7 linked regions of the Homo sapiens genome follow. The protein of the gene in region 5 purifies or fractionates together with the protein of the main gene of each other region. This does not show direct contact. Each region holds a gene or a part of one and is shown on either strand. Other genes may lie near its edges. The genes, in order: VSIG8, PKP1, NT5DC2, HEPHL1, TFG, MAPK13 and EIF1AX.

What was found.
Region 1: the proteins of TFG (region 5) and VSIG8 purify together in Homo sapiens (affinity purification with mass spectrometry; 3 studies listed by BioGRID and IntAct, with this or other methods). This does not show direct contact.
Region 2: the proteins of TFG (region 5) and PKP1 purify together in Homo sapiens (affinity purification with mass spectrometry; 2 studies listed by BioGRID and IntAct, with this or other methods). This does not show direct contact.
Region 3: the proteins of TFG (region 5) and NT5DC2 fractionate together in Homo sapiens (co-fractionation; one large-scale study listed by BioGRID). This does not show direct contact.
Region 4: the proteins of TFG (region 5) and HEPHL1 purify together in Homo sapiens (affinity purification with mass spectrometry; 3 studies listed by BioGRID and IntAct, with this or other methods). This does not show direct contact.
Region 6: the proteins of TFG (region 5) and MAPK13 purify together in Homo sapiens (co-immunoprecipitation; one large-scale study listed by IntAct). This does not show direct contact.
Region 7: the proteins of TFG (region 5) and EIF1AX purify together in Homo sapiens (affinity purification with mass spectrometry, with the first as the bait; one large-scale study listed by BioGRID). This does not show direct contact.

Annotation. Positions count from the first base shown.
Region 1 is NC_000001.11:159,859,858-159,864,157, reverse strand, and holds the start of VSIG8 (V-set and immunoglobulin domain-containing protein 8 precursor), read left to right. Parts: upstream 1-1,500; 5' UTR 1,501-1,636; coding exon 1,637-1,685; exon of another isoform or gene 1,686-3,512; intron 3,513-4,300.
Region 2 is NC_000001.11:201,290,006-201,293,505, forward strand, and holds part of PKP1 (plakophilin-1), read left to right. Parts: intron 1-3,500. UniProt on the Homo sapiens protein: A component of desmosome cell-cell junctions which are required for positive regulation of cellular adhesion.
Region 3 is NC_000003.12:52,527,373-52,530,857, reverse strand, and holds part of NT5DC2 (5'-nucleotidase domain-containing protein 2), read left to right. Parts: intron 1-1,523; coding exon 1,524-1,708; intron 1,709-1,922; coding exon 1,923-1,997; intron 1,998-2,165; coding exon 2,166-2,221; intron 2,222-2,318; coding exon 2,319-2,412; intron 2,413-2,546; coding exon 2,547-2,675; intron 2,676-2,784; coding exon 2,785-2,845; intron 2,846-2,926; coding exon 2,927-3,029; intron 3,030-3,139; coding exon 3,140-3,241; intron 3,242-3,482; coding exon 3,483-3,485. UniProt on the Homo sapiens protein: Promotes dephosphorylation of tyrosine 3-monooxygenase TH which decreases TH catalytic activity and leads to reduced synthesis of catecholamines including dopamine, noradrenaline and adrenaline.
Region 4 is NC_000011.10:94,108,354-94,111,530, reverse strand, and holds part of HEPHL1 (ferroxidase HEPHL1 precursor), read right to left. Parts: intron 629-3,177; coding exon 466-628; intron 1-465. UniProt on the Homo sapiens protein: Is a copper-binding glycoprotein with ferroxidase activity. It oxidizes Fe(2+) to Fe(3+) without releasing radical oxygen species. May be involved in the regulation of intracellular iron content.
Region 5 is NC_000003.12:100,729,994-100,733,493, forward strand, and holds part of TFG (protein TFG), read left to right. Parts: intron 1-2,514; coding exon 2,515-2,679; intron 2,680-3,500. UniProt on the Homo sapiens protein: Plays a role in the normal dynamic function of the endoplasmic reticulum (ER) and its associated microtubules. Required for secretory cargo traffic from the endoplasmic reticulum to the Golgi apparatus.
Region 6 is NC_000006.12:36,137,013-36,140,512, forward strand, and holds part of MAPK13 (mitogen-activated protein kinase 13), read left to right. Parts: intron 1-1,352; coding exon 1,353-1,432; intron 1,433-1,689; coding exon 1,690-1,768; intron 1,769-1,866; coding exon 1,867-2,043; intron 2,044-2,281; coding exon 2,282-2,361; 3' UTR 2,362-3,500. UniProt on the Homo sapiens protein: Serine/threonine kinase which acts as an essential component of the MAP kinase signal transduction pathway.
Region 7 is NC_000023.11:20,124,839-20,128,338, reverse strand, and holds part of EIF1AX (eukaryotic translation initiation factor 1A, X-chromosomal), read left to right. Parts: intron 1-27; coding exon 28-33; 3' UTR 34-3,500. UniProt on the Homo sapiens protein: Component of the 43S pre-initiation complex (43S PIC), which binds to the mRNA cap-proximal region, scans mRNA 5'-untranslated region, and locates the initiation codon. This protein enhances formation of the cap-proximal complex.

The sequences.
Region 1 (4,300 bases), on a different chromosome or scaffold from region 5:
TATCCCAGCTTAGGCACCAGCCGCATTGGCTGAATCCCCATGTTTCTCCAGGTCTCTGTTTCCCCATCTGTAAAATGGGGATAATGATCCCTGCTCTTCAAAGGGAGCAGGACAATCCCATAAACCTAAAAATAAATAAGGAAATAAAGATATTCATTGTGTACATCTGGTAGGTCTCAGAGCGCCCTGTTATTGTTGGGAGTTCAGGTGCAACGGCTTGGAATGCAGAGACGCGTGGACTCCTTGTGTTTCCTTAATGTTCTGACTTATTTTTCCCCAGAGGGGTGGGCCCTGGCAGCATCCCTGAGCCCCATAACTCTCCCTAACACTCTTCCTCCTCTGCCCTTTCTGTGCCCCATGGTAGGGATGGGGGCAGTCCCTGACTCCTTTGAGGGAGTTGAGCTATTGAATGGGGTCACTCATGTCCTGACTCCCACCATGGAGTCCAACAAGGCACATGCCCATTCTGTCCCCCTTAGACAAGCCAACAAGGGGTGGCCCTTCACTTGCTCCCCATGCCTACCAGGACCCTCCCCACCCCAGCACGAACTTACCCAGAACTGTGCTGGTTTAGTCAGCCCGATGACCAGTCCAGGTTATGAGGGTCCTTGGTCTCAAGGACCCAGTTAATACTGGGACTGCATTAACCCTCAAGACCTGGCTACTCTTTCTGGGCAGAGAAGCCAGGACACCAAGCGATCCCTCAAGAAGTTCACTCAGAGGGGCTTAGCCATCCTCACAGAGACACCCTGACACAGACATCCTGCCTCCCTCCCACAGACATTGCTGAGGGGTGCACACGCTTACACAGGCACCCCCTTCCCTGGTCCTCTTGGCGCTGTTCTCTCCAACACTCCCTCACTAGCCCATCAGTCACCTTACTCCTAGCACACACCCTGGACCCCCCATAGCACCCCTGCTCCCAGGGGTCCCCTACACTTGGGGATGGCCTTGAGTCGAGTATGGGTGTGGAGGACAGTTCCAGAGGGGACAGCCAGGAGGAGACTCTGTTCCTGCACACACCCCTTCTCTCCTCTTTCAGCTCAGGAGGCCTGAGTCCCTTTGAAAGGCCTGAAGCCTGGGGGAAGGTGGGCTGGACACTCCTGGGGAACCCTATGCCCTGGGATCAGGATTAACTCTTCAGGTCCTGGCCACTCTTTCTCCCAAGCCTGGCTTCTCCTTCCTCTTCCCCACTTCCCCCAGGGAAGGAGGCAGCAAATGAGTGGTGAGGGGAGCCCTTGGAAGCTGTAAATGAGGTGACTGTTGTCACCCTGAGGATGTGGCCAGGAGGAAGTGAAGTTTAACAGGTGCCTAATTACAAGTCCCGCTGGCTGTCCTGTGCCACTCTTAGGACAGGGAAGAGCTTGGGTGAGGGCTGGGTAATGCCCAGGTAGGCCACCCTGTCACCCTGCTAATTAGGGTTCCTGGGACTCCTCCCCAAGGCGGGGACCAGGCCCCCTCCCTCCCATAGAAATAACTCCAGCTGCTCCCCAGCTGGGCACTCATTGCACCTTCCTGCCACCCCAGGCAGTGTCTGGGCCCTCAGCTCCCCCTCCCTCCACCTACCCCCTCACACCCACCACTACGACCCCACGGGATACCCAGCCCAGACGGAGGAAACACCGAGCCTAGAGACATGAGAGTTGGAGGAGCATTCCACCTTCTACTCGTGTGCCTGAGCCCAGGTACGGGGCTGGGCAGGGGGCAGGGTAGCCAGCATGAGGCTAGGTGGGAAGGAAAGGGGCAGCAAGGGCTCACAGTGGAGCCTGGGGCTGCCTGAGTTGCCTGGCAGGGTGCTGCCCACCCTTGCCCTGCTGCAGCCGGGTGTGGGTATTACCAGGGGACCTTTCCCCAGGAGACCCTGTGCCTGATGTTCAGGGTGTGTGTCTGTAGTGCAGAGGTCTTTGAGTGGATCTTTATATGTCCCCTGTCGGGCTCACACATGTGTGCAGGTGCCCTGCAAGCTCATGCCGTGACTAGGAGGAGAGGGATTGATTGCTCTGCAGGAGCTGGAGGTGGGGTAGGAGAGGGGTAAGCACGGGCATTGGGTGAGGGCTCAGGAGGAGCTTGGGAAGGATCAATTTTCATCAGACTGTGTGCTATTCCCAACGCTACTCCTTCTCTCCCAAGGCCAGGGCCAAGGGGCAGGGAAGTCACTTGCCTTGAAAGGGCAAGAGACTAAGTCTGGTGTAAGTCTGAGTGGTTTCTTCCATCATGGCCAGTGACAGCTCAGGCCTGAGACCTCAGCCTTGGGCCCCCTGTGCTATGACAGGGCAGTGCCCCACTCTAGGATGAGGCCTGAGGGTGGTGGGGATGGCAACTCCAGAGACTTCTCACCCCACCAGGACAGGTCCACAGGGCAGGGCTCAAGTTTGGACATTGTGGCTTCCTGCCCAGGTTGGGGCAAGTTCCACCAAGGGGCATTCTATGCCAACATCACTGGAAAGGGCTCCGAGTCCCTCTTGCAGTCTGGATTTGGGATGAAGGGGCATGAAGGAGGAATTTGGGAAGGCGGGGTGACATTTTCAGCCTTTGTGTGAGCGTGAATGTGTATGTGAGTGTGTGGGTGCGTGCACCTGCATGGGAATGATGACATTTCCGGCAGGATAGCTGCAGCCCTTCTCTGTCTGATGAGAGCAGGGCTGGCAGAGTCCACTCGGGAGGCTCCAGCTGTGCTGTGGGGACCCGGACTTCCCCCTGTGTGGTGTGTCAATGGGTGTGTGAGGACAACTCAGCACTGGCTGCATTAACGCATCAATACCCTCAGCTGGAGCCGCCTTTTCTCCCCTCCCTTACCTCCAGAGGGAAGATCAGGAGTTCTGGAAGCACCTTGAAGATTCAGAAAGAATTTGCAAGCAGAGAGTAGGCACCACTATTGAGATGACACCCCGTAAAGCATGGCCAGTTTCTGGTGCTTTTGGGGGGCAAAGAATCACCACTGTCCTCTTCCTTGGAGAGCCCATGTGATTCCTCCATTCCTGTCTCTCCTCAAGTCTCCCATCCAGCTCTCTCTTCCACTTTGCCTTTCTTCCCTCTCTCCAGCCTCTCCTCTCACATTCCCTGTAGTACTTCCTTAGTGCTACAGCAAGAGGAATCAAGGTGAGACATTAGGAGCAACTTCCCAAGGAGAGGGAGGGGTGCGGAAAGGCTGGAACCCTTGGGAGGAGGTTGAGAAGACTTCTAAGGAGATAGAAAAGCTGGGTGAGGCTCCCTGGTCTGGGACAATTGAAGAATCTCTCAGCCTGGTGCAGGGTGGAGGTGCTTTTCTTGCAGCCTGTCGCTCCTTCCCAAGCCCCTCTCCCTGAATGCTTACCATCCTGCCTGGCAGGCTCCTATGGCATGGAGAGAGTCCTTCCTGTGTGGGTGCTTCCAGCGGTGCTTCTCCAGGGTGGAGCCTCTGCTCTCAGCCGAGTTCTGGCTCATCCCTGGCTTGCCTTGAGCAGCCTCAGGATCTGGCAGATGGCAGCAGGATCCTTATCTCAGGAATGAGCTGTTGTTCTCTTGGCCTGGAGCTGGAAGAGGCATCACTAGGTCCCGTTAGAGCCCCAGCAGTCAGCCTGCCTGCTCTGGGTCACCTTGGAGTCTAGCTGGGTTATGACAGAGCTGATGGCCCAGCCAGTGTTCCTAGGGGGGATGTTCAGGGATCCCTGAGCTGTTGAGGGTGTTGAAAGGGCCCTTGCTGGCCTCTCTGGAGCCAGGCTAAGCCTTCCTGGCAGGGCTTCCATAGATATGTCTGGTCTTGAATGAACACATACAGGGACTATATGAACACACGGTGGGTGTGTCTTTTGAATTAATATGTTCTGTGTTTGTGTGCAGATTGTGTCTGTGTCTGAATGAATCTATATAGTGTCTGTGTTTGTAGGAAGGTGGGGCCATATAGGTATGTATCTGCATTTTGAAGCCTTGTAAGAGTGGGCCACGTGCCGATTTGTTTGCCTGTGATGGTGTAATTGTGTGTGTGCATGTGTGAGATCTCTATGTGTAAACATGGTCCTGAGCCACATGATAGAACAGAATGATTGCTGAGACCTGGGGCTGTGACTCCAGAAGACATGTTGACTCAAAAAAGAACGCAGACGGAGAGTGTGTGAGGCCTGGTGAGGGGCCTGCAGAGGCAGGGTTGCTGGAGACTGGGAGGTGGAGGGCAGAGTGTCCAGGGTGGGGCCCTGGCTACACCCCCCGGTCTTATCCCTCTCTAGGTCCAACCGGTTGGGGATAGGCCTGCCTGGGGCTTCAGGGTAGGGAGGGACAAGAGCTCAGTCCTGAGCTCCTGGGTCCTGGGATCCTGGCTCCTCAC
Region 2 (3,500 bases), on a different chromosome or scaffold from region 5:
AGATTTCCACTCATCCTAAAGAAGGAGCTGCCTCCAGTTTCAAAGGTTTTGAGGCGAGAAAGCTTGAGTTGCACCGATGACACAAGAAAGAATCAGCCTGTCGTTGTCTAAGGCACCAAAGGGAAGCAGTGTGCCAGGACACTGGTGACCTGAGCGGTAGATTTTCTGAGATGGTTTTACACCCTAAAACGCGGATGTAAAATCAGACGAGCTATGTGGACAGAGCAGGTTGTGTTGCTTGTATACCTGGGAAAGTGGCAGATGCTCTGAGGCACTTGCTCCTTGACCTTGGGGTTCTGTGGGTGGGCAGATGCTTCCTGAGGATGGCACACAGGTTGGGCACACTGTCAGTGTCACCGAGAAGCCACCACATCCCTGCTCATGCTGCATGCACCCATATGGGGAGAAGAGGGGCAAAGCAGATGCTTAGCTGGAGGGTAGGAGTGATTCTGTGGGGTGAGCTGGGAACTAGCCCCTCCCCCATTCCCCAGGAACTAAGAATCCTCCTCAAGGAGGTGGCCTTGGGTATTTGAGAGCTGCAGCAGCCCTCCTCTCTTCCTGGTTTACCCCACTCACCAGGGACCTCTTTGAGTGGGAGGAGAGCCTGACCCCATTCTAAGCCTCTAAGCACCAGGCATCAGAGCACGTTCACCACAAGGGTTGGGCAAGGGAGAAGAGGTCATTGACGCAAAGAGCCAGCTCAAGCCAGTCAGGCCCAGACCCAGCTGGGGCAATGCCCTGAACTCAAGGTCCCAGGGAAAGAAAGACATGGTTCGCACTTCAGAGAGTGTCCAAAGTACATGGTGGTGGAGACTTGTACGGGCGTGAGATGGAGATGGGAGTAGGCGTCATTCATCAGGAAAGGCTTCCTAGAAGTGCATTCTAGAGACATCGGGGACCAAGTGGAAGAGTGAGCTAGCACCATTACACTCATTAGAAGCCCATGCTCTTGCTATTGAACTTGACTTTTAGAGGGCATTACTTACCAGTCAGACACCCCAGGGTCAAGAGAGGGAAAATCACTTTTGTTGTGGGAGCAGTGCTCTTACAGACAGAGCACACCTGCCCCCAGTACTCCTTGGTTATCTGGCACACTGCGAGCTGTGATTTCAGGTGTGTGACAACTATGGACTTTTCCCCTCTCTCACCACCTCCGCCCCAAATACTGTCACCTTCTGCCAGATTAGCAGTGCAGGCAGGTGTGATGTTACCCTCATTCTCACCAGAGCCAAGCAGACCCCAACTACAGATAGGTCTTAGGAGATGCCTTCAGGAACTGCCTGGAAGGGCCTGCAGGCCACAAGTGAGTGACAGTCACACCTGCCTTTACCAGAGTTCATGCTGGACATGGGGACTGGCTTTGGGAACTGCAGGGCATTCTGGCCTCTCCCTCCATGTGTCTGTGTGTCCACTGCCACCTCCATGGCAGAGAGGCCTCTACCTTCATACAGAGAAGAGTGTATGAGAGGGAGGCAGGCAGGTGCAGGGTGTGGCGGGAGGAGATGGTTAGTCTGATGACCCATGGGGAGAGCAGCATCATGCTGACAGGTTCTCTCCCAGAAGACGGGCAAGAAGGCCCTGGTGCAAGCCCCCCGGGGCTGCTTCTCATAGCAGGAGGCCTCCCCGGTGCTCCATAAAGTTCTGTCTGTCACCACCCCAAATTTTCCACCCAGAAGCAGCTGACTGACCCACACCTGACCTTTGGTGAGAAATACCTGCTCACAGGGCCAGATCCAAATGAACTCTATCCTATCAAACCTTGGAAGAATGATCAAAGTGGGCTGGGTGGAAGGGAGGCAGACAAGACCTGGTGGTTGGCCACCTAGGGTCCTGACTATGAGTGTGCCTGGCTGCAGCCCCCTTCCTTGGGAGCACCAGTCCTGAGTGACTGAGCCCATGAGATTGCCTCCAGCCTCTTCCTGATAAGGACAGTCTTGCCAGAGGAGCGGTTGCTGGAGAAAGGTGGAGGAAGAGCTGTGTGCACTCTACAGGGAGCTTGGAGGAAGCCAGAGGTTCAATGGGCCACATGGCAGAGTCCCAGGATGTTGCTCATAGGCGGATGGCCCTTCTGGAGTCAGGGCTAGGCCTGGAGTATAGGGGAGGCCTCTCAGAGGACCCTGAGGCAGGTGGCAAACGAGGCGGTAGTGTGGCCTTTGATGTCTGCCCTTCTTCCTTGTAAGCTGAGCTGTGTCTCTGGAGAGGAGGAGTCGGCTCCTCTGAACGCAGTCAGGCACGTGTCACTATCATCACACCACCACAGGGCAGTGGAACTGTACGGGGCCTATGGGAGGTAAGAGGCCAACCCTCTCTTTTGACAGAAGAGGACACTGAGGCTCAGAGAGAGCAAGTGACTTGCCCAGGTGCCAGAACCAGGACAAATATCAACACCGCTAGGCCCCCAGGGCAAGCTGTGTCTGCCACAGCTTGAGACCCCTAATGTCCATGATGGAAGGGTGCAGAGAGTTGGGCAGCACTCTCTGCTGTGGGCTATGGGTGGTGACCTGGCGCTGGACAGGGGAGGTGGCACGAGGTGGGGATCCCTGCCTCATTCCAAAGCTGCCCCTTGGCTATTCCCTCTACTCCCAGCTCAGATATTCCAGCCCTGCTCCCCCAGGCAATGGCCGGGGAGCCTAAGTGGGTGTGGCAGATGGGGAGGAGCTACCTTGGCTGGGTGAGATCACTGCCCAACTCTCTTCCCCACAGACAGGGTTTCCGATGGGGGAGTCTGACCATCGCTTTAGAGAAAAGGAGTGCATATCCCTCTTAGGAGGCTCTCACTGGATCCCACTCACCTTCATCCCCCAAGGCCATCACTTAACAAGAGTGTGGGCCAGGCCACGGAGCCATGGCTTGCTCTTCGTGGAGCTCCCAGTATAGCTGAGGGAATGGGACGCAGGGCAGAATGAGACTTGGGCTACCAAGAGCAGGACAGTATGTGTTTAGAGGCAGGAGAGATTGCCTTGTGCAGAACTGATCAGAAAGGGCTTCCTGGAGTGGGTGAGGTCTTGAGCTTGGCTTCAAAAGATGAGCAAGATTAGAAGGTAGTGGCCAAGGAGGGAAGGCAGGTTTGGCATGGAGGGAGATGTGAGTAAAGTGGTGAGCCTGTCACCATTGGCCATATTTCAAGGACAGCAGGACAGTGAACAGACCAGCTTGTGCAGAGTTGATGCTATCCCTTAGGGTGTCCCTGCTGGCCAGTGAAAGGGAGATGAGGGGGGTGGCCCCACTAGGAGCCCCAAATCCAGTTCTGTTTTCTGTGATGCAAAGCCACTTTGCCACTAATAACCCTAATGACACTCTGTCCTCCTGCGGAGCCTGTCATTTGTGGGTCTCCAAGCACTCCGAAAACATTAATTAATCCTCACTGGGCCTTTGAGGTTGATCGCCGCTCCCCCTTCACCAGCCAGAGCATGTTAGAGGTGAAAGAATGGGAGGAAGTTTGGTCACTGGTAGGGGCTGGGCTGAGATTTGAATCCAGAGTCCTGTCCTGAATCAATCTC
Region 3 (3,485 bases), about 48 Mb from region 5:
GGGAAATTGGGGACAGGATGCTCATAGGCTCAGGAAACATATCACCCATTTAATCCTGCATATGTGCAGGTGCAGAGTGAGATTGCTGCACAGAGCAGCACCTTCCATATGACAGTCTTAGTAATTCTGTAGGTTGGTACAATTTTTTTTTTCTTTTTAAAAATGTTTTCACAGAGACAGGGTATCGCTATATGGCTTAGACCAGTCTTGAACTACTGGGTTTCAAGCAATCCTCTCGCCTCAGCCTCCTGAGTAGCAGGGACTGTAGGTGTGTGCCACCATGCCCCACTTGGTACAATTTTTTGTACCCTTTTAGAAACTAGGAAACAGGCCCAAGAGGTGAGGTGACATTCCTGAAGTCATAGCCATGAGAGGGAGGGCCTGGTCTTGTCTGGCTGACCTCATTGCATGTGGCCTTCCTAGCACATCTCCTTCCCTTTCCTTTCCCTTCCACTTTCTCCATTGTACACATAGGGAAACCAGGGCAGGTAACATGGGGCCTCTCAGCCCCATCTGCCTCCTTGGGACCCCAGAGCCCATGCCACACAGTGCTCTGCTCAGCACCCTGCTGTGGGCCTCAAAGCCAACTGCAGCCTCCTGGGAGCAGCCAGGGACTTGGGGTGGCCACGACCACATCCCCAGAAGGAGCAACCTGGATAATGGCCCAGAACCTGACATCACGTCCTGACTGTCGTAATTAGCAATGTTCCCTGGCTAGAGCCAGCAAATGTCATTATATGGGCTTGCGGGCAGCTGAAATCTGATTAGAGGGGCCTCACTCTCCCTGGGCTGTGGGAAGTGCACAGAGCTGGCAGCCCGATCGGCAGAGGGGCTCCCCCTCCCACTAATGTTCCTGAGCCCCAGTCCCAGCTCTGGGCAAGGTAGAAAAGTCAGCATCCATGGCCTCAACCCCCTAGTCTGGCCATACAGAGCCAGCCCCTCTGGGTTGGAGTCCTCAGTGCCCACATGGTATCCTCACACATAATCCCAGGGAGGCTGAGAGATGAGGCCAGGGGGCAGGGCAGGGCAGCTGAGAGGAGCAGAGGAGGCGCTGAATTGTGGGGGGCCAGACAGTGGTGTTCCTGCACGGGTTTTGAGCAAGTGGGAGGCTTTGCTTTGTAGAGCATCCCAAAAGCAGCTGTTCTGGGGCTAGGCGGTGAGGAGTTGAGTGACTGCTGCCAGGGTTCTAGCATGGCCTTGTGTCTGATGGGGCTTAGTGGTGAGGGCCTGGAGTAGTCACGGGCTCAGTATACCTGGTGGGCTATAGGAGATAGTGTAATGTAGGCAGGTGTAACCATGAGGAGGAGCTCCAGCCAGGGGCTCTGCCTTACCCTAACTGCGTGACCCTGGGCAAGTGACTTCTCTCTGGGCCTGTTTGACCATCTCCAGCACTGGAATAAGAGGTGCCATTGTGGGGCGTTTCTGAGGCTCACAGGGCTAGGTCCCCACAGAGTGCTCAGGAGCCATAGCTGCTGCAGGGATCATCATCCCCATCACTGCCTCCCTGCATCTCCTTCCTCTAGACCTCCTGCCCCCCGAGGTCTGCAGTCTCCTGAACCCAGCAGCCATCTACGCCAACAACGAGATCAGCCTGCGTGACGTTGAGGTCTACGGCTTTGACTACGACTACACCCTGGCCCAGTATGCAGACGCACTGCACCCCGAGATCTTCAGTACCGCCCGTGACATCCTGATCGAGCACTACAAGGTGAGACGGGGGTCCTTGCCACCAACAAACCCAGGGCTTGGAGGCTGGCCAGACCCACCTTGGCCTAAGCTCAGGGCTGAGTCGTGGGGCTCCCCTGGCCCTCTTGCCTGGCAGCTGCCCTGGGCAGGTGGCTGGATTGACCCCCTGGGGTGGCCACCCAGCCAGCAGGTCTGGCAGGGCTATTGGCTTAGGCCTGGCCCCTTTCCCCCGGCAGTACCCAGAAGGGATTCGGAAGTATGACTACAACCCCAGCTTTGCCATCCGTGGCCTCCACTATGACATTCAGAAGGTGAGTGGCTGGACCTGTATAGGGGCTCCCTCCTTGGCCTCCTCTTGGTATGGTCATTACCCCTCCGTCCCATCCAGCTGGGGTTCTGGCATGGGCTGAAAGAGGCTGGCTTGGGGCCACGGTGAAACTGCCTCCTCACCATCCGTCCTGCCTCCCTGGCGCCCCCAGAGCCTTCTGATGAAGATTGACGCCTTCCACTACGTGCAGCTGGGGACAGCCTACAGGTCAGTCGGCTCTGCCCCAACCCCACCCCCGCCCCACCCTACACTGCTGTTCTGGCTCAGGACTACCTTGGACTGATGGTATCTTGGGCCTGCTCAGGGGCCTCCAGCCTGTGCCAGACGAGGAGGTGATTGAGCTGTATGGGGGTACCCAGCACATCCCACTATACCAGATGAGTGGCTTCTATGGCAAGGTACTCCATACCCCAGCAGCCAGCCTGCCCCATGGACATGTGCCCATGTCCCAAGGCAGATTTGGGGCCCTCGTCTCCAGCACTGAAGGGGTTGGGGTCCCAAAGGGTGTCTGAGACAATGGCCCCCTCCCCAGGGTCCCTCCATTAAGCAGTTCATGGACATCTTCTCGCTACCGGAGATGGCTCTGCTGTCCTGTGTGGTGGACTACTTTCTGGGCCACAGCCTGGAGTTTGACCAAGCACATCTCTACAAGGACGTGACGGTGAGGATGCTGGGCCTGCCCTCGGATGGCAGGAAAGACTAAGTCCAGCCACAGTGGGACAGCCCCACCTGGGCCCTGCTGTACCCTCATTGTCCTCCACTGCCCCCAGGACGCCATCCGAGACGTGCATGTGAAGGGCCTCATGTACCAGTGGATCGAGCAGGACATGGGTAAGTGTGGACAGAAGCCCTGCCGTGGCCGGCCTGAGCAGGTGGCAGGACTGACCCTCACAGACTCATCTGCCCCATTAGAGAAGTACATCCTGAGAGGGGATGAGACGTTTGCTGTCCTGAGCCGCCTGGTGGCCCATGGGAAACAGCTGTTCCTCATCACCAACAGTCCTTTCAGCTTCGTGTGAGTCCAGCCCCTGTGGATGGAGGGACAGCAGGGCCAGGGCTCTGGGTGGGGAGGGCAGGCACGGAGCCGCCCTCAGACTACTTGCCACCTGAAACTCCTCCACACAGAGACAAGGGGATGCGGCACATGGTGGGTCCCGATTGGCGCCAGCTCTTCGATGTGGTCATTGTCCAGGCAGACAAGCCCAGCTTCTTCACTGACCGGCGCAAGTATGGGCATGGTGGGGGTTGCAGGGCCAGGGAAGGGGAATAGAGGCCCCACCCCAATGAGGGGACTGAAGCAGGAGGCCAACCTGGCCCTTGCCCACTGCCCAATGTGCTTGGGGTGAGAACACCCCCTTGCTGGCATGGGTCCACTTGAGCAGGTGGGCCTTTACGGAGGAGGGATGGGGGTTGCCCGGCCCGTGGCCCAGCCACAGACTGGAAGTCATGCCCTTTACCTGCACCCCAGGCC
Region 4 (3,177 bases), on a different chromosome or scaffold from region 5:
AAAGAAAACAAGTTCATTGTTTTATTAACAACAGAAGGGGATTCTTTTCATGACACTAGTCATTTCATTTCACCAGCGAGGACTTATCCCATCAGTATCTGCCAATCATTTCTGGATTCTTACTGTGCTACTTCATTCCCATGTACATGCTTTCCTGCCCCAGCTGTCTTTCCCACTTCTGCTCACCCACTGAGTCTATCTGGAGCATCATGGCCTCTGTGAAACTTTGGCTCATATCCTCCAACTGTTACCCATTCACTCCTACTGCTGCTATTAAGCCCTGTACTCTGCATTCTGCTACGGCACATAGCATACTTGATTATAGTTACATATTTACATATATGTCTCTCTTACTTGACTCTGAGCTTGTTGAGGGCTATATCTGGGTTTTTGTCATGCCTCCTGTTTTGGGGGTCTACAGGAAGCTCGGTGCCATCATCTGGCATCACTGACAGACAACCGTACCTATGTTACGAAGGACCGTGTAGGTTGTCTCCATGCCAGCATGGATGTGGTCAGACACATGACAGTGTAGCAGCCATGTCCCTGGGTGATCTGCAAACAGTTCAATGGTTTGGAATGTCCCAGGAAAGAGATCATACACATCTTCTCGGTAAGATTTATCTATCTGCAAAAACGTTTTAAAAAACAACAGCTAGTAGCCTTCTTTGCTCAGAACAGCAAGAACAGAAAGAAGAGCAAAAACAAATAAAACCCACAGTAAGCAAAAGGAAGGACATAAGAAAGAGCAGGAATCAAGAATAGAAGTACAATAGAGATAAGTCAAAGAAATCTAAAACTGATTCTTTGAACAGATCAATAAAATCAATAAATTCTGTAGTAGCCAGCTTCCATGATGGCCCACAATGATCCCCACCTCCTGGTATTCATAACCTTTGTGGTTCCTACCTACATTGTATAAGGGTTGGTATGCGAAATCAATAGCATGTGGAAGAAGTGCTGGCATTCCAATTCCAAGATTAGGTTATCATTACTTCTGTGTTAGATACTCTGTCACCCTCTTCTCTTGGATTACTCACTGGAGGAAGCCAGTTTTCATGTCTTATCCACATGATCAGGAGCTGAACCCTCTAGTTAACAACCATATCAGTAAGTTTGGAAGTGGATCCTCCAGCTCCAGTCAAACCTTTGAAAACTGCAGCTCCAGTCGACATCTTGATTGCCTCCTCATGAAAGATTCTGAATCAACCAACTAGTTAAACTAATCCCAAATTCCTGATCCAAGAATTACTCTAAGTTTAGAGTAATTTGTTATGCAGCAATAGATAACTAATACAAATCTCTGGACAGACTAACCAAGGGAAAAGGGAAAAGGACACATTAAAAATACTGAGAATGAAAGTGAGGACATCACTAAAATCTTACAAATATTAAAAAGGAAATACTGGACAAACACCTCTTATCCAAAAATTGTACAACTTAGATGGTATGAACAAATCCCTTAAAAGACACAAACTCCTGAAGATTACTCAAGAATACATTGATAACCTGGATAGCACTATATCTATTAAAGAAACTGTAATTGCTTCAAGATATTCCAACAAATTAAACTCCAGATGGCTTTATTGGCAAATTCTACCAAACATTTAATGGAGAAATAATACCAATTGTAAACAAACTGTTCTGGAAAATAGAAGAGGAAAGAACAGTTCCAACTCATTTTATGAGGCCAGCATTACTGTGATACCAAAACTAAACAAATGCTTTGTGAGGAAAAAAAGCTACAATCAATACTCCTCATGAACATAGATACCATCATCCATAACAAAATACTAGCAAATCAATTCCACAAAAAGGAATAATACATCATGACCAAGTAAGGTTTATCCTGGGAATGAAAAAGTGTTTAAAAACTCCACAATCAATAAATGTAATTCAGCAACAGATTAAAGAAGAAAAAGCATCTGATCATCTCAATAGATGCAGAAAAACCATTTGATAGAATTTAACATTTGTTGATGATCAAAACTCTGAGCAAATTTAGAAGGAAATTTCCTCAACCTCATAATGGGATCCACAAAAAAGCTGCAGCTAACTTTATATTCAAAGGTGAATGACTAAATGCTCCCCTTGTAAGATTAAGAACAAACTGAGGATGTCCACTTTCACCACTCATATTCAAAATTGCACTACAGGTCCTAGCCATTGCAGTAAGACAAAAGAAATAAAAGACATACAGATTGAAAATAAATGAAGCCATGTCTATTCACAGACAACATGATTGTCTGCATAGAAAATCCCCCTAAAATCTATAGGAAAACTATTGGAACTAAAGTGAGTTTAGCAAAGATGCAGGATGCAAGGTCAACATGCAAATATCAATTATATTTCTAAATATTGGCAATAAACAACTATAAATCAAAATAAAAACACTATCATTTACACTATTACCAAAGCCTTTTATATACTTAGTTATAAATAAATAAAACAAAGTATATGCAAGATCTCTATATTGAAAACTACAAAATGCTGATGAAAGAAATCAAAGAAGAGCTAAACGATAGATATACCATGTTCATGGATTGGAAGCCTCAATATTGTTATGTCAGTTCTGTCCAACCCATTGTATAGCTTCAGTGCAATACCAATCAAAATCCCAACAGGATTTTAAAAATCAAAATCAACAAATTATTTCTAAAATTTATCTGGGAAGGCAAACATCTAGAATAGCTAAAACAATCACCATCTGATTTTGAGACTTACTATAATACTAAAGTAATCAAAACATTGTGGCATTCAAGAAAGGGCAGAGTATAAACCAGTGTAACAGAAGAGACCGCCCAGACATAGACCCACATATATGTGGTCAATATGATTTTCACAAAAGTAAAGAGTCAATTCTGTGGGAAAAAAAGATGATCTTTTCAATGAGTGGTGATGGAACATTTGGACATATATATGAAAAAAAAATGAACCTTATTTCATATCTTGAACCACATATGAAAATTAAAATGTATCAGAGCCCTAAATCTAAAACTATACCACTTCTAAAAGAAAACAGAGACCTTTTTTGGGACCTTCAGTAAGGCCAAAATTTTTTATACATGACACCAAAAGTATGATCTATAAAAGAGAAAAAAGAAAAATTGTACTTCATTTTACTTCATCAAAAATTAAGAACTTCTATTTGAAAGCTGTTAAGAGAATGAAAAGATA
Region 5 (3,500 bases):
ACCTTTTATATTTCAGGTCAAAGAAGGTTGCCTATTCTGAGCCCTACCTCTCCAAACAAAAATTTCCAATTTTAGATCAAGAATCAATGAAAAAGTTAGACAATTTTTCCAGAAGAATTCATAGATGCTGACACAACATTTGCATATAATTTCAGGGGATTTAACCATCTGCAGAATATTAAGAAGTGTAGATGAGAATTTAACCAGTATAGCCAATACTGTTCAGAAATTAGCTACAGTGGCCCACATTCTACTCTAAGGAATGGATTTATGAGTTTTTTGCTTTAGGTGAAACTTTTTCCTCACCTCTTTCTTGCTACTGTTTATACTTTATTCTTTGTGTCTATATTTTTTATACATACTGTTAGCTTTTTACCTATGTTAATGTAAAAGGTGTTAAAATTGGTTTCTTCTCTGCATTTTGGAAATCATGCCATATGTTGTTTTCTTGTATGGCCATTTTCTAGTTATTGTGTCCTGTCTGACATATCTGATGATAAGATGATATAAGAATAATACAATCTGCATTATATTTTTAGAGATAGTTCTTATTTTTTTAGAAAACAAAAACAACAAGAAAACCATACATCAGAAACTGAAATCTAGTCCACAAAATGAAATTGCCAATCAGCTATCAGTGCTATTTAGAACCTGTGGCTTACCCTCACCAAGAAATGTGGCCACCTGTGGTCTTCAGCTCTCTATTACAGCGGTTCTTGGATGCTTGTTTTCCTTTAAGAGGCAAATGATGTGTAAACTACCTTAGATAGAAGATTGACCTGTTGCAGTATCTCCAGCAGCTAATGGAGCAAGTAGTAGGACGTATAGTATGTTTCCTGATGGTTTTAGTTTGTGATAAGTGAAAAGAGGCATAGGTAGTGAGATGTGAGGGGAAACAACTTGTAAGACTGACGTGGTATGCTCTTGGGATTAGAGGAAGGAAGTTGGTAGGGAAGATAGATAACTGGTAGACATGTTTTAAAGGAATACTTCTAGTAGTAGTTTTCTTTTTCCAAACATTTAGAAAATATTAGGGTAGCCTGGAATGGTATGTTAGGAATGAATGAGCTGCCAGCCAGTGTGTGCTGTGGGTACTTATATTCGGTTTAGCACTTAACATTTTTTTCAGAAGATACATTTTGTATTGATTACAGGGGTGATCTAAGAACTGATGTTCATTTACTTGCTTGGTAACAAAAGTGATAATCATTGTCCCTTAATTGAGTAAATGGTTAGCAACAGTCTTTTTGTTTACTTGTTCGTGTTTTTTGTTTGTTTCTTTTGATGTCTTTTGTATCTTGGACTTGGATTCCTATTTGTAAAATGTATGTTAAAATTCTTGAACTCTTTTTCTTTCACAAGACAGTAGTATAAATGCCTGTGGAATATCTTAGTATCCTGAGAAGAAAAGCATGATTTTAAATTTAACCTGCTCATAATATTTGACATTTTGTTTTTCTGTTGTTGTTTTAAACATTTTATTATAGAAAAGTTTAAGTATATAAGAAAGTAGACATTATAATGAATCCCAGAAACCCACATCCAGTTTCAACAGTTACCAACTTATAGTATCATATAATTACACTATACACATTTCCGCCCCTCCTGTTACCCAGAGTGGAGTACAATCTCAGCTCACTACAAACTTTGCCTCCTGGGTTCAAGTGATTCTCGTGACTCAGCCTCCTGAGTAGCTGGGATTACAGGCATGCATCACTGTGCCTAGCTAATTTTTGTATTTTTGGTAGAGATTGGGTTTTGCCAGGCTGGTCTCGAGCTCCTGACCTCAAGTGATCTACCCACCTCGGCCTCTCAAAGTGCTGGAATTACAGGCATGAGCTGTTGCACCCGGCTCCCCTCCTGTATTATTTTGATGCAGATCCCATATACATCATTTCATCTGTAAGCATTTTAATAAGTATTTTAATAAGTAATACATATTAAAATAGAAGGTAGCAAATTCAAAAATGTTTTTAATGTGCTATTTATGGAAGATTATGAATTAATTATGGTTGGCTTGATTTCCATGTAATTTAATAGTGGACCAGTAGACAGTAGAAATAAAATGTAAAATTTGAGATTATAACCTTAGTTCAGTTTCTTTTTATAAAATAAAGCCTTAGTTCCTATAATTATTATTTCCAGAGTGCCCAGTGGGTATCTGATACTAGGATATAGGTTATTGGGCTCCAAAAAAACCAAAAAAAGTAAAATGTTTCTCTTTATCAAGGAGCTTGTATTTTTTTCATCTAATGTTTCTTACAAAAGGAGGTAAATAATTTTTTTGGAAAGCTTTTGTTCATCTTCTGTTTCTTTTTGCCCTCTTCTCCCTGTTACTAGAAGGAAAAATATAAAAAAAATAAAGGAATTAAAATGATCTGTAATCCTATATTCCGACATGCTTAACATTCCAGACTATCATTATACACCTGCATTATTTCCCTTGTACTTTTAGGCCTTACTGAATATAGATAAAAAGGAAACAAGTTTTTGTTTATTCCTCTATTTTTACAGATACTGTGGATGGTAGGGAAGAAAAGTCTGCTTCTGATTCTTCTGGAAAACAGTCTACTCAGGTTATGGCAGCAAGTATGTCTGCTTTTGATCCTTTAAAAAACCAAGATGAAATCAATAAAAATGTTATGTCAGCGTTTGGCTTAACAGATGATCAGGTTTCAGGTAAGTTGGTTTCCAACTCCTTTACACCCTTCGTTTCCTTCATCTTTCCGTTCTTCCCTTTCCTTCTTTCTTTAATTGAAGAATAACTTGGATATGGTGAAGTGCACAAATCTTAAGGGTTCTGCTTAACAAATTTTTACATATGTGTACACTTATGTAAAAGACTAACTAGATTAAGATGTAGATGATTTCCAGCACTTCAGAAAGCTTTCTTATGTCCTCTCCCCAAGAGTAGCACCCTCCCCCTTAAAGAATAAGCACTGTTGGGTTCAAGTAAATTTTTGAAAGTAAAATTTAGAAAGTTTTTAAAAATCTGAACTATTTTATAATTTGATTAGTTGCAGTATTCGAATTATATTTGATTTGTCTTATCTCCTCATCTTAGAGAAATTGAAAATTAAATGTAGATTTTCTTGTTAAATTGCTTGAGTATACAGTGGGTTTTTATATAAATAAGTTTTTAACCTTAAAGCAGTACCTATATTGTTTTATTCTGTTTAACTTTTGGTTATAATTTCTTCATTATTTTTTCCTGCTTTTTCTCTTTTCGGATTCTAATAACACATACATTGGAGAGCTTGATACTGTCTCATGGGTCATTAAGGTTCATTTTTCTTCAGTCTTCTCTCTGTTCTTCAGGTTGGGTGATTTCTGTTGAACTCTTCAAGGTCGCTGTGATTTCTAATATGCTGTGGAACCTTTCTAGTGAATTGTTTAATTGTGCTTTCAGCTCTAGAATTTCCATTGGGTTTTTATAGTTTCTGTTTTTCTGTTGAGATTCTTTATTTTACATTCATTAAGTCTATATTTTCCTTTAATTG
Region 6 (3,500 bases), on a different chromosome or scaffold from region 5:
TTAAATAACTGTCTTTTTTTTCTTAATGTGAGAGTGATACATACTCCCTGTAGAATAATTTGTAAATGCAGATAAGGCTGGACGCAGTGGTTCATGCCTGTAATCCCAGCACTTTGGGAGGCTGAGGTGGAAGGATCCTTTGAGCCCAGGAGTTTGAGACCAGATGTGGCAACATAGGGAGACCCCATCTCTAAAAAAGTTTTTTAAATTAGCCAGACATGGGCCTGGCGCAGTGGCTCATGTCTGTAATCCCAGCACTCTGGGAGGCTGAGGCGGGCAGATCATGAGGTCAGGAGATCGAGACCATCCTGGCTAACAAGGGGAAACCCCGTATCTACTAAAAATACAAAAAATTAGCCAGGCGTGGTGGCAGGCGCCTGTAGTCCCAGCTACTCAGGAGGCTGAGGCAGGAGAATGGCGTGAACCCAGGAGGTGGAGCTTGCAGTGAGCTGAGATCGCGCCACTGCACTCCAGCCTGGGTGACAGAGCAAGACTCTGTCTCAAAAAAAAGAAAAAGAAAAATCCCAGCTACTTGAGAGGCTGAGGTGGGAGGGTTGAGCCTGGGAGGTTGAGGCTGCAGTGAGCTATGATTGTGCCACTGTACTCCAGCCTGGGTGACAGAGGGAGACCCTAACTCAAAAAAAAAAAAAAAAAAAACAAAATGTTGGGTGGGCATGGTGGCTCACACCTATAATCCCAGCACTTTGGGAGGCCATGGCAGGCGGATCACCTGAGATTAGGAGTTCGAGACCAGCCTGGCCAACGTGGTCAAACCCCATCTCTACCAAAAAATACAAAAATTAGCCGGGTGTGGTTCACGCCTGTAATCCCAGCTACTCGGGAGGCTGAGGCAGGAAAATCGCTTGAACCCAGGAGGTGGAGGTTGCAGTGAGCCAAGACTGTGCCACTGCACTCCAGCCTGAGTGACAGAGTGAGACCCTGTCTCAAAAAAAAAAAAAAAAAAAAAATGTAGATAAGCAAAATGATGAAAAATTCTACCACTACGTGGAAAATACATTTTGGCACGGCACACATTAACTGAGTACCTGTGTGTGCAGGGCAGGCCTTTGGTGAGAAGACGAGGAAACAGAAAAGAGTCACTGGGATGAAGGCTGAGAAGTCCACATCCATTTGTTGGGTAGGGACCCCCCTCAGCCTGGCACGTTGGAAAGCTCTCCAGAGCCCTGAGCCCTGAAGAATAAGCCTCCTCCTGAGAGCAGGAGGTGGTTAGGCAGGGCTGGAGCCTGGATGATCAGTTGCCATGGTGCCCGGGTGAAGTGATGGTGGGGTCGCAGGAAGGGCAGTCTCAGACCCACCAGGAGAGCAAGGCTAAGCCTTAACCTGCCACCAAGACCTGGACCAGCTGACCCAGATCCTGAAAGTGACCGGGGTGCCTGGCACGGAGTTTGTGCAGAAGCTGAACGACAAAGCGGTGGGTGGTAAATGGGACCTAGGCTGGCCTGGGCTGTGTGCTTGCCTGACGTGGGCCCAGTGGGCTGCAGGCCTTTGTGGAAGAAGGCTCACCAGCACCTTCCCACAGCATCCTCCTACCCTGGCAGGCACTCTTGTCTTAATCTCACCGTGGACCCTGACCTGAACTTTCAGCCCTGCTCTGAGGCTTTTCTGAAATCCCTGCTCTACACGCTGAGGCCAGAGCCCTAAGGGGTTTGATGCTTTTCTGTCTTCCAGGCCAAATCCTACATCCAGTCCCTGCCACAGACCCCCAGGAAGGATTTCACTCAGCTGTTCCCACGGGCCAGCCCCCAGGGTGAGTCTCAGAGCCCGCTCCCCAGGGGCCTCTCAGCGTATCCCAGAGGGCGGGCTCTCCCAGCCCCTGGTGTGAGGCTCTTGGCTCTGCCCCTGCAGCTGCGGACCTGCTGGAGAAGATGCTGGAGCTAGACGTGGACAAGCGCCTGACGGCCGCGCAGGCCCTCACCCATCCCTTCTTTGAACCCTTCCGGGACCCTGAGGAAGAGACGGAGGCCCAGCAGCCGTTTGATGATTCCTTAGAACACGAGAAACTCACAGTGGATGAATGGAAGCGTAAGAGCTGGGGCCTCGGGCTTCCTCGCCTCCGCCTGCAGCCTCTCTTCCTTGCTTCCTCCATCTTTGTGCCTGGCCTCTGCCAGCCCTACCTGCCACCTCCTTCTTGGTGGGCATTGTCTCCTGGGTGCTTCTTTCTCCTTGAGCTGACTTCGCTCTCCATGCTGTCTCTGAAGGGGGGTGGACTTTCTCGCCACAGCACCTCTTTACGCACCTTAAACCATGCTGCCTTTCTCAGAGCACATCTACAAGGAGATTGTGAACTTCAGCCCCATTGCCCGGAAGGACTCACGGCGCCGGAGTGGCATGAAGCTGTAGGGACTCATCTTGCATGGCACCGCCGGCCAGACACTGCCCAAGGACCAGTATTTGTCACTACCAAACTCAGCCCTTCTTGGAATACAGCCTTTCAAGCAGAGGACAGAAGGGTCCTTCTCCTTATGTGGGAAATGGGCCTAGTAGATGCAGAATTCAAAGATGTCGGTTGGGAGAAACTAGCTCTGATCCTAACAGGCCACGTTAAACTGCCCATCTGGAGAATCGCCTGCAGGTGGGGCCCTTTCCTTCCCGCCAGAGTGGGGCTGAGTGGGCGCTGAGCCAGGCCGGGGGCCTATGGCAGTGATGCTGTGTTGGTTTCCTAGGGATGCTCTAACGAATTACCACAAACCTGGTGGATTGAAACAGCAGAACTTGATTCCCTTACAGTTCTGGAGGCTGGAAATCTGGGATGGAGGTGTTGGCAGGGCTGTGGTCCCTTTGAAGGCTCTGGGGAAGAATCCTTCCTTGGCTCTTTTTAGCTTGTGGCGGCAGTGGGCAGTCCGTGGCATTCCCCAGCTTATTGCTGCATCACTCCAGTCTCTGTCTCTTCTGTTCTCTCCTCTTTTAACAACAGTCATTGGATTTAGGGCCCACCCTAATCCTGTGTGATCTTATCTTGATCCTTATTAATTAAACCTGCAAATACTCTAGTTCCAAATAAAGTCACATTCTCAGGTTCCAGGTGGACATGAATTCCAGGGGGAAATGATTCAACTCACTACAGACAGCTGGGAGGGAGGGGCCCCTTCCTGGGCCCCGTGCTGAGGCCTTGTGCTCTGTGAAGGAACCCAATGTGTTTGGCTGCTAAATTAAGGGAGTTGCAGAGAGAGCTGCAGCTGGTGCGATTGCATTCAGGTTATTTTGGGTGAGTGATAAGCAATCAAGATATGAAACAACAGCAGGCTCGGAGACTGCGAGCTGCACAGGCAGAAATGGGCTCTTGCCTGGCTTGATGGCAAACCGTTCTGCTCCCTTTGGGAGATGGCACAGCTCTCCAGAGCTTTGACCTGACAGTGGCTAGAACCTCTCTGTTTTTATCTGAGAAACTTTGGCAGAACAAATTTCCATGTGCACAAGCTGTCGGGCACAGTGGGTCTCAAATTTCCTTGTGCACCAGGGGACTTGTTAAAATGCAGATT
Region 7 (3,500 bases), on a different chromosome or scaffold from region 5:
TTCATCTGATGTTCTTTTCCCTTCCAGATCTAAATTGAACTCAACATTTTACATTCCATCTTTTCTGAAGATTGTCCTACAATTTGGATTTTGATCATGACAAAGAAGATTAAAATTTCATTAGCATGAATGCAATTTGTTAAAGCAGACTGATTTGTTTCTAAGATATTTTTGGTTTTTTTAAAACTGATAATAATGCTGAATTATCTTAAGTGAGATGTTAAGCCCACTTTGTTCTTTTAATGTAATGGAGCTTATGGGTAGAAGACCATGTCTACTAATTACAAAAAAAAAAAAAAACCATGCATTGCTGCTTTTCCTACCACTTCCAGTAAGAAAATGGGTGTTTTGAAGAAATCATTTGCCTTGTCCTCACGGAATCTGATTAAGCCCTGGCCTCTTGATTGTATAGAGTCATTGTGTATATTCCAGTTACCTAGATATTCCCTTGAGATTTTGATACAATTTGAGGGAGGCAGAAGTCTGCAGTTGAAGAAAAAAAATAAGTCTGTTTGTCATATTTAAGTAGCCTGTGGCTATTTTTATACTGATTTTGATATCATGTTCTTTTCATAGTCGTATTTTGCCACCGTAAACATAAAAAAAAAAAAAAAGATTTCCAAAATGCCGTTTTCAGAACCTGGGTTTTAATAGCAGTATTGAATTTGTAAGCTTAGTAGTTGCAGAAATTGAACACTAGGTGGCACTCAGTTATCTTAACAGGGGAAGTACTGATACAATTGTTGACTTTTCTTTTACTATGTGTAAGAAATACCCCAAACATGAAAAGATTGTTTTGATCATATGCATGTATGTAGAATATTTTTGCAGAGCAGAAAGATTATGTTAGAAGTGTGATTTTTATTTTCAGAAGTCATATACATGTAAGCTACAATTTTGAGTGCTTTATAAACACTTAAGATATATATATAAATTTTAATTTCATAGCAACTTGTAAAAAATAAAATACTTGTTGAAAAGCCTTTTTCAACATATCCCTAAGCTAAGGGAAGAGGAAGGAATAACAACTCAGTGAAAAGATGGTCTCCAGTTTCTGAATGAAAAAGCTACAGCTGAGAAATAAAATAAAATGTCATGCTGCAGAATATGTTATACCCTTATTTTGTGTTAAGGATATATTTTATTATGTGAATGGTTTTGTTTTTGTTTTTTGTTTTTGTTTTTTGCTTGTATTGGGAATTAGCTTTACTGGTAACTTCCTTATTTAGTTTTTAGTGGTCAACTCTAATAAAATGAAACTAGGGCTGAGCTAGTTAGCCCTCACTAGCCAAACTGAAACTCTATGCAACATTAAAAGAAGAGATCCATCATGTAGCTTGTGACACTTTTATTTTATTAGTCACCGGGGAACTTTTCAGTGATGAAAATACACAGGGTAATAAACCTTCACATGGCTTCAAAAGGAAAACAAGCAAATCTTCTCTAATCTACTCTTACTATAATTTCCTAAGTGTACACCAAACTCTGGATTTAAAAATCTGAAGTACTATAGAACATTAAGTTGAAGAATGGAAATTAAGAGTACGTATTCATGGTTTATATTTCTTATTCTATGGAGTTCGTGAACACATCTAGGTGGAATGCATCTGAGACTAAGGGCTGGTTTTTAATCCTCATAAGAAACCAGCCTTGAAGAATTAACAATTCTCTTCATTGGTATTCTAAACCTCCTAAGATATTTAGGCTTCTGTACATAAAAGTGTTTTTGCTAAATTTACAGTATATATAGATCCTTTCATATTATTTTACTAAGAATGTTTGAACTTTGCATATTTGATATAGTTCCTGGTAGGAATAGCACAGCTCAAACATTAGTTTTTCTACTTACCTCCTCTAACACGTGGTTTGTCTGGAGAGTTTCTAAAAATTCAGCTATAACCCCAGTTCATGTATTTACTGGTGATTGTTCTTGCTGAGGTAGTAACAGCCCAATCTTGGGCTGTTAAATCCTAGGAAATCTCGAATCATAGTGATTAAAATAGTTGGGGTAAAGTTGTAGCTTATATGCAATACTACTTGGAGGAATTCTTCTACTAATTTGTATTTAATGTGGAAATTGTATAGTTTCATTGATTTAATCATAAATAATGGAAATGGTCTCCAAGAAGTTTTATTTTTCATTTTTTTGCTTATACACTCTGATTCCTATAATACAGTGCTATAAGCTATGCACAGAAAATAAAATGTTTGAAATCCAAGAATAATGGTTCTTACTGCTAAGAGGGAGTAATAGTTATTACTAATGATTTTGATTGGGTTGCATTTTTGTTGCAATGTTTATTCCACTTGCAGTTAGAATATGAATATGTTTTATCACTAGTGTGGCTAAATAACCAAACATTTGTGTAAAAAAAAAAAAAAGCCAAGATTTCATTGTTTGTTGAATATTTCTTAAGCATCTGGCCCCTAAAGAGACCGCTTCTTACCAAGCCTGTAAACTATGCATGATGGAAATTCTTGTATTTTATTTAGGAATGGCTGTTGGTTTACTCACCACATCTGTGGAATCATGGCTATAAATGTTTGCTTACAAACTCTTTGTGACTTGTAATTTAACTTAATCTCATCTAATGTAAATATTAGATTATGATGTTCAGTAACATCTTCCATAGGTATAAACTGCTGTCATTATTGATTTCAGAGTAACTCTGAGTAATCAAATAGGTAAAAGCATGTTTTGAGTAAAATAGCTAGATTTATACTTTACTTGTATACAGACTTAACAACAACCGGTATTGACTGGATTGACAGCTAAAGTATCAGAATGAAAGCAAGGTTTTTTTGATGTTACCTGACTGTCATAAAGATGAAAATGATTTGTATTGGTATGAAATGCTTATCTTTATTCTACTTCGTAAGGGTAAGTTTTATTTATACTCTTTGGACTCCCATGAACTTTTGCACACTGCTTTGTGTTTTTGGTTTACCCTAAACTACCATCCTTTTTATCTTTGCTTTTTTTCTTCCTATTCAGAAAAGAGCAAAATGTGAAAAGACACAAGACTCTCAGGTATAGAATGAACTGAGCAATTTGGAGAATGTATTGGACTTTGTCCTCTCTTATTCCCCCCTCCTAGCCCTGCAAGTTGCTAGGTACTTGTGAGGCAGTGTACTGGAGAGGGGAGAGCATGGATCCTGGGGTCAAAGGGCCTTTGCCCCCACCCTTACTTGGCCCTCTACCTGCAGGTGACCACTGGCACATTCTCCTGCTTGTCTCAGCTTCAGGTTCTTCACCTCTAAGATGGGGATGATGAAAACAGTACCTGTCATGCAGAATTGTTGGGAGGATTGATAATTTAGATGTTTATACATGTAATGTACTTAGATCAGTGTCTGCTCTTTTCACTTGATATCCAGTACTATGTAAGATAGAAGGTGCATGTCTTCTGTATTCTGTATTTCCCATTTCTTTTGCGTGCAGTCTTTGATTCGTACAATAGAAGGAACACGTAGAATGTATATTTGTACATTCATGTCAA